2 linked regions of the Homo sapiens genome follow. The protein of the gene in region 2 purifies or fractionates together with the protein of the main gene of each other region. This does not show direct contact. Each region holds a gene or a part of one and is shown on either strand. Other genes may lie near its edges.

Region 1 (3,725 bases), on a different chromosome or scaffold from region 2:
TGGCATTCTCTGTGGTGGGAGCTTGTTTGAGTGGGACCTGCTGGCCAGGGCCACGCTCTGAGCTTGGTGATGAGACGGTTCTGTGCACCAGGCTCTCTGGCCTGAGAGAACAGAACCCAGCACAGAGGCCAGTGCCAGGCAGAGAACCATGAGCAGGCAACATGCCAGCCGCTCGGAGGATGCAGCGGAGAAACAATGTACCTTCTGTAGGAGCCTAAAGATACGCTGTTGCCTTATACCAGCCTGGGTGCAGACTCATGCTCCCCTGAGGCGGCAGATGCAGTGTTTACCCTCTTCCCTTGCTACCTTCTGAATTCAAACCTTGAAAAGAGTTTGCAGCCGGGTGCCACGGCTCACGCCTGTAACCCCAGCACTTTGGGAGGCCGAGGCGGACGGATCACGAGGTCAGGCGATCGAGACCATCCTGGCTAACATGGTGAAACCCCGTCCCTATTAAAAATACACACACACAAAAAAAATTAGCCAGGCGTGGTGGCAGGTGCCTGTAATCCCAGCTACTCGGGAGGCTGAGGCAGGAGAATGGCATGAACCCGGGAGGCAGACCTTGCAGTGAGCCGAGATCATGCCACTGCACTTGAGCCTGGGCGACAGAGCGAGACTCTGCCTCAAAAAAAAAAAAAAAAAAAAAGAAAAGAAAAGAGTTTGCTGGAAAACTTAAGGTCAAGGGATGGTCTCACAAAGAAAATAAGTTATTAAGAGAGATTGCTTTTCCTTTTCTGATCTGCCTAGTCCTTGAGTTTCAGGAGCAGGGTGTGCCTGCCTGCCACACACAACCACAAATTCAGGTATCTCTGCATCTCTGCTGCTGTGTCAATGCTGACAGAACCCTCATTCCAGACCCCACTCCACTTAGACTAAAGGAAGACTTTGTGTCCACATAGAAAAAGAAACACACAAGAATTGCCAGGAAAACACTGAAAAAGGAAGACAAGGGTGACTAGCTCCACCAGATATTAAAACAGACTATAGAAACCCCGTAATTAAAACTGTGTGGCTCTGGTGCACCAACAAACACATGCACTACGAATGAACAATATAACCACACTGAAGGGGATGGGAAAAACACGGATATAACCTAAGAAGCTTGGAAAACTGCATCTTGACTGCATATAAATGCTATAATCCAGTAAATGTGTTTCATAGGTTGGGAACTCAGAAACTACTTCATGCATATACTAGAACTGAACACATAAGTAGTAAGTAAATAAGACAGCAGGTGTGCAATGTCTTACTCTTGGAGAAGGGAGTTAAGAATAAGAAAGTGAAAAAACTAAAATGAACTCTGTACCGTTGGACTAGAACCCAAGGTACAGGATACAATCACGGTTTTTCAGATAAACACAGAGAGAAATACACAGAAATATAGACATGCGCACACACGTTGGTATACACACGTATGTTTGCTATTGCTGAACACTGAAGGGGAGCAATGAGAACCAAGAGGTAATGAACACACTTAATGCCTAGGTCTTGGTTTCTAAACACTTCTCCAATAAAAGGAATCAGGGCTGCTTGAAGAAGTGGCTGAATCCAGGGCCTGTGGGGAGCCAAAAACAAATATTTTGTGGAAACATGAAGTAAGGAAATGAAAAAAAAAAAAAGTGGGCTTGATGGAAGAACACAAGAGGCTACTCTCAAAGGAGCACCCTGATGGCCCAAAGGAGAACAACCTAAGCAACTGATTCGGTTTGGCTCTGTTTGTAACCACCATGTGTCAAGAGAGGGACCTGTAATCCTCACCTGCAGAGGGAGGGAGGTAACTGGATCATGGGGCAGTCTCTCCCATACTGTTCTCATATAGTGAGTTCTCACAAGATCTGATGCTTTTCTAAGTGTTTGGAAGTTCCTCCTTCCTTCTTCCCTCTCCTGCCGCCTTATGAAGAAGGTGACGGCTTTCCCTACCATCATGATTGTAAGTTTCCTGAGGCTTCCCCAGCCATGTGGAACTGTGAGTCATTAAATGTCTTTCCTTTATCAATTACCCACTCTCAGGGAAGTCCTTTAGAGCAGTGTGAAAACAGACTGATACAACAATATAATAAATAGTGATAGTATGGGATTATAACCCACAGAATAAAATCCATATCCATGAGTCCATATTGAGCTAAACAATCAGATAAATATCTCATTGGAGGAGAAATGACAGTTCTGTCTTGCGGGAGAGTTCCAAATAATAAAGACAGTAAGGAAGAGGAAACAGAAAGTCACCATCAAGAGAACTGCACCTGCGCCATCACTGCACACAAGATACACCAATGGTTGCGAAATCAGTGAGGAAGAGTTTAAGGAGCAACGGGCTCTGTACAGGCTCAAAGCATCTCCCCACACTACCTGTTAACTACAGCAGGAAAGATAAAGGAGGTGACATGATGTGGATCTGTGTCCCTGCCCAAATCTCATGTCGAATTTTAATCTCCAGTGTTACCAGATGGGCCCGGTGGGAGGTGACTGGATCACGGTGCGGGGAGTTCTCATGAATGGCCTAGCACCATCTCCCCTTGGTGCTGTACAGTGAGTGAGTTCTCATGAGATCTGGTTGTTTAAAAGTGTGTAGCACCTCCCGCCTCTTTCTCCCCCTCCTGCTCTGGGTCATAGAAGATGACCTTCACCTTCCACCAGGATTGTAAGTTTCCTGAGGCCTCCGCAGAAGCAGAACCTGCTATACTTCCTGGACAGCAGAACCATCAGCCAATTAAACCTCATTTCTTATAAACCACCAGTCTTTCTGGCATTTCTTTCTGGCAATGCAAGAAGGGACTAATACAGGAGGAGACATAAAATACAAGAGGATGACCCCAGCAGAAGTCACCTTAACCAAGGCACCAAGCTCAGCATCCTCTACAACAAGACACGCTGACATCACAAGCCCCAGACACAGTGCACACCACTTCTGTGGTTTGTGTAATCTCGCTCCAACCATATGAAAATGCCAGGCAAATGGAAAGACAGTCAGCAAAATAATGATCAACAGTCTTTAGTTATCAAGGTCATAAAAAACAAAGAAAGACTGAGAAACCCTGACAGACTGCAGGTGATGAAGAAGGAACAACTCAACGCCACAGGTACCCTTAATGGGACCCTAGAACAATACAAGGAGACAGGTGGAAAACTGGTGAAATTCAAAGAAGGCCTTCGCTTTTGTTGTTAGGCATTGTGACAATGTTAATTTCTTTTTCTTTCTTTCTTTCCTTTCTCTTTTCTCTCTCTCTCTCTCTCTCTCTCTCTCCCTCCCTCCCTCCCTCCCTCTCTCCTTCTTTTTTGAGACGGAGTTTCACTCTTGTTGCCCAGGCTGGAGTGCAATGGCGCGATCTCGGCTCACTGCAACCTCTGCCTCCTGGGTTCAAGCAATTCTCCTGCCTCAGCATCCCGAGTAGCTGGGATTATAGGCATGCACCACCACGCCCAGCTAATTTTGTAATTTTAGTAGAGATGGGGTTTCTCCATGTTGGTCAGGCTGGTCTTGAACTCTTGACCTCAGGTGATCCGCCCGCCTCAGTCTCCCAAAGTGCTGGGATTACAGGCGTGAGCCACTGCGCCTGGCCTAATTTCTTGAACTATTACATTGCATTAATCTCCTTGTGTTATGAATCATAGTAACATGCCACCAATGTTAATTTCTTGGTTCTGATCATTGAGCTGTGGTTATGCAAGGTTGAGTGAGGAATATATGAAAGTTGAATTATTTTTTCAACTTTTCTGTGAAA
Region 2 (3,600 bases):
GTAGGTCTGGACAGGCGAAAGATTCCACCTTGTTAACCAGCTCCACGTGACGCCCACCCAGGATCCTAGCCCAGGGCCCACGCTTTGAGTGGTGGCCTTGGACTAGAAGCACGAACTCTCTGCCTCGGTCACTACCAGTGGCTGCCACTAGCTCCCTCCTGGGCCCACAGGCCACCAGGCCCTCACCCATGCATCTAAGGTTATTCCATAGCTTAGGCCCCTAACACAGGTGTGTTTCTGCCCAGTTAAAAAAACCAAAGACATAAAAGGCCCAGCTTCTTCCCCACCCTCTTCTGGTCCAGCTGCTGCTGCCGGTTAGCAAACGTTGGTGAAATGAGCACCCAGGGAGGGGCCTGAGTGGCTGCTTTCAACCTCACTTGGGGGAGATATTGTCCAAGCCCATGGCTGGGGGCAGTTCATGGGTCACCAAGCTGTCAGGATCCAGTCCTCTACAAGCCATGCCAGGGGCTGTCTATCCAAAGTCCCACTGAATCCTGACCACTACCTCAGGGGCTAATGCCATAATCCCTGTTTTCCAGAGAAGGAAACTGAGGCCCAGGGAGGCACTCTGCTCAGGTTAGTGGCAGAACCAGGATTTGACCCAGATGTTCGGGGCTCCCAAGTGGGCAGCCTGGGTCAGGAGGGGGAAAGGGGGAAGATGGGGAAGCCAGAGGGGCTGGCCTGTGAGAAGGGAAGGGGAACACAGAGGCCAGCAGCCTTTGCCCCAAGAGAAATCAGGACAGGAACTTCCTGCTAATTGCAGTCATTGACCCGAAGCCAGGGATGAAAACCAAAATGTAGGGAGTGGGCTCCTGTGGATCATCCGCAGGTTTGCAGAGCAAAAGAGGGGCACGGCTAAGTGGGACAACCCTGGGTTCCTGCAACTGCTTCCCCTCTGACTAGCTGTGGACCTCGCCTGGGCAAAGGACTTCACCTTTCCGAGACTGCATGTCATGACCTCAGTGTAAAATGGAGAGAACAGTAGGATCCTTCCCAGGGTCGACGGGAGGGACCGCGAGATAACGCAGGGACTTCAAGCCTGGCACCCAGAAGGTCCCGCCAGGGGGAGCCGCGCCCCCAGGCCTGGGGAGCGGTTTGTCCCACTCCCCCTCGGTCTCAGGCCGCGAGACAGGACACTCGAGAGACGGGACACTCACCGGGGCCACTAGGGAGGCAACACCGCAGGCCAGGCCGGTGAGGAGGCGGCCCCCCAGCAGCATCCACACGTCCTGGGCCGCGGTGATGACGGCAAAGCCGGCCACGAAGGGCACGGAGCACAGCAAGAGGCTCAGCTTGCGCCCGGCGCGGTCCACCAGCCAGCCGCCCAGCACTCCCCCCGCCGCGGCACCCAGGGTCACGACAGCCTGGAGGCGGGCGGCTGCTGAGGAGGGGGCGCCGAAGCCGCAGCCCATCCTCCCCCTCCACCCACTCCCCGCGGGCTCAGAGGTAAAAGAGCCGGGGCCCCGCGCCCGTCCCGAGGGGAGGGGTAGGGGGCTGAGGGGCCCGGTGCTCGTCCCGAGGGGAGGGGTGGGGGCTGAGGGGCTCGATGCCCGTCCCGAGGGAAGGGATGGGGGGCAGAGAGGCCCAATGCCTGTCTCGTGGGGAAAGGTGGTGGCGGCGGGGCCCGATGCCTGTCCCGAGGGGAAGGGTGGGGGGCGGAGGGTCCCGATGCCCGTCCCGAGAGGAGGGCGTGGGGTCCCAGGGCGGGAGGAGCGAGCCCGGGGCCTCACCCCGAACCAGGAGGCGGCGGCGTCGTCCAGGCGCGGGGCCGGGGGCGCGGCGCGCTGCAGGCTAGGGATGGCCGGGGAGCTGTAGCCGAGCGCGAAGCCGAAGCTGAGTGGGCCCAGGGCAGCGGCGAAGGCGGCGAGGAAGACGCGGCGGCCGCGGGGCGCGCTGGGGGGACAGGGCCGAGGGTGAGCGGAGCGGACGCGGAGGGGCGGGAGGGCGAGGCCGCATCCGGGCCCGGGTTCCCCGGAGCTCACCTGCCGCCAGGAGGCCCCAGAAGCGGCTGGGTTTCCTCTGGGTCCTCGGGCGTCATGTCGGCGGCCAACGCCGATCGGCCAGCTCTGGCGCCTGAACCGCCACGGGCCCTGCGAGTGCGGCCCGCACCGGCCTCTCGCAGCCAATGGGCGGCGGGGGGTGGGGGACGGTGCTGGGCGGGATCGGAACCGCAGAGCAGGAGCAGCCAATAGGAACGCAAGGCGGGGCTAGCGAATCAGCTAGGACCCGCCCTTCACATTAAAGCAGACCAATGGGAGCATAGAACCGATTAGCGAAGCGCGCTGGAACCGCCCCTAGGGCGGAGCGGTCCAAGGTACAGGTGGGGCGGAGTTTCCGTCTGGGAGAACAACCACCCAATTGGAGTGTAGTGCGAGCCCATAGACGGGGCCAGAGAGCTGCCTCAGAACTGAGCTGGCCAATGAGGTTGGAGGGAGGAGTTTTTTTTCTGGCACCTCCTCTCAATCTGGCTTCAACCAATGAGGGTAGAGGCGGGGCGAAGGCGAAGCACGTGGGCCTCAGCCCGAGACTTCCCGCCCCCAACTCCGAGAAGCTGCACCTGTCCTGCCCGGTCGGGTCTGCAGTTCCTGCTCCGCTTTAATCGCTGCCCTGGGGACTGTATTGGAGGCGTCTGACCTATGCCTGGGCCCAGCTCTGCAGGGGAGAGAGCCTCTAAGCAGACCGTCCTGGGCCGCCTCTCTCTCCTCTCGGAGGGCGAGACTGGTCAGACGCTCCCGCTGGGCTGCTGGCGGCGGAGGCGTGGCCCTGTGCACCGAAACCCACTTTCATGCTTCCCAGATTGCTGAAGGCTCGGGTCTCCAGGTGCTGAGGACCAGTGGTAGGTGGGGTCCCCCACGCCGTATGTGTGACAGATCTGGGCTCCACTCCCCCTCTTAAGTGTCACTCACTTCACAGGGAGTCCTGACTCTTGAATCTTCATCTACCTGCCTCCATATTTTGAGTTCCCTGTGGATTTTAATGCCACCTTCTCCCGTGTGCACCCAAGTCGAATGATGAGGCACTGTTGGATCTCACCAGTTGTACCCGATTCATACCCAACACTCTGGGTGCAGGCAGCTGTGGTGGAATGCTGGTGTAATTCTGGAAAGAGCCAGGGCATGGGAGTAAGAGGCTTGGCTTGTAATCCCTCTCTGGGCCTTGTGTTTCCTCATCTCTAAGTGGGGATGACCATTATCTTCCAGGAGAGTTGTGAAGCAAGGTAATGTATATAAGACATGTGAAGCACTCAAAGGCTAACCGGTATGATGAAGACAGTCATCTGATATGTTGCAGTCACTTGATGGTTCTAGCAACCAACATTTTTCAGTCCTGACCACAAGCCTATCCTTAAAGACTTAGGCAACTGCCCTTCTGTACTCCCACAGCATCTAATGCTTGATAACTCGAGCACTAGATGTGTATTCTTATCACAGCATTTATCACTGCTTTGTGATCCCTTGTTTACTTCCGTCCTTCCCCCAATGGACATGACCTCCTCTGGAGAGGAGGCACTTGGTGTGTGCAGAGTGGATCAATGCCTCCAACTCCATAGGCAGACACTGCAGTTAGATGATTTTCTGTGTGACTCAGCCAGTCGGGTAC

What was found. The genes of interacting proteins can lie anywhere in the genome.
Region 1: the proteins of SLC2A8 (region 2) and C2CD2 purify together in Homo sapiens (affinity purification with mass spectrometry; 2 studies listed by BioGRID and IntAct, with this or other methods). This does not show direct contact.

Annotation. Positions count from the first base shown.
Region 1 is NC_000021.9:41,943,894-41,947,618, forward strand, and holds part of C2CD2 (C2 domain-containing protein 2), read right to left. Parts: intron 1-3,725.
Region 2 is NC_000009.12:127,395,669-127,399,268, reverse strand, and holds the start of SLC2A8 (solute carrier family 2, facilitated glucose transporter member 8), read right to left. Parts: upstream 2,101-3,600; 5' UTR 2,039-2,100; coding exon 1,983-2,038; intron 1,894-1,982; coding exon 1,731-1,893; coding exon of another isoform or gene 1,365-1,730; coding exon 1,158-1,364; intron 1,098-1,157; exon of another isoform or gene 956-1,097; coding exon of another isoform or gene 935-955; intron 1-934.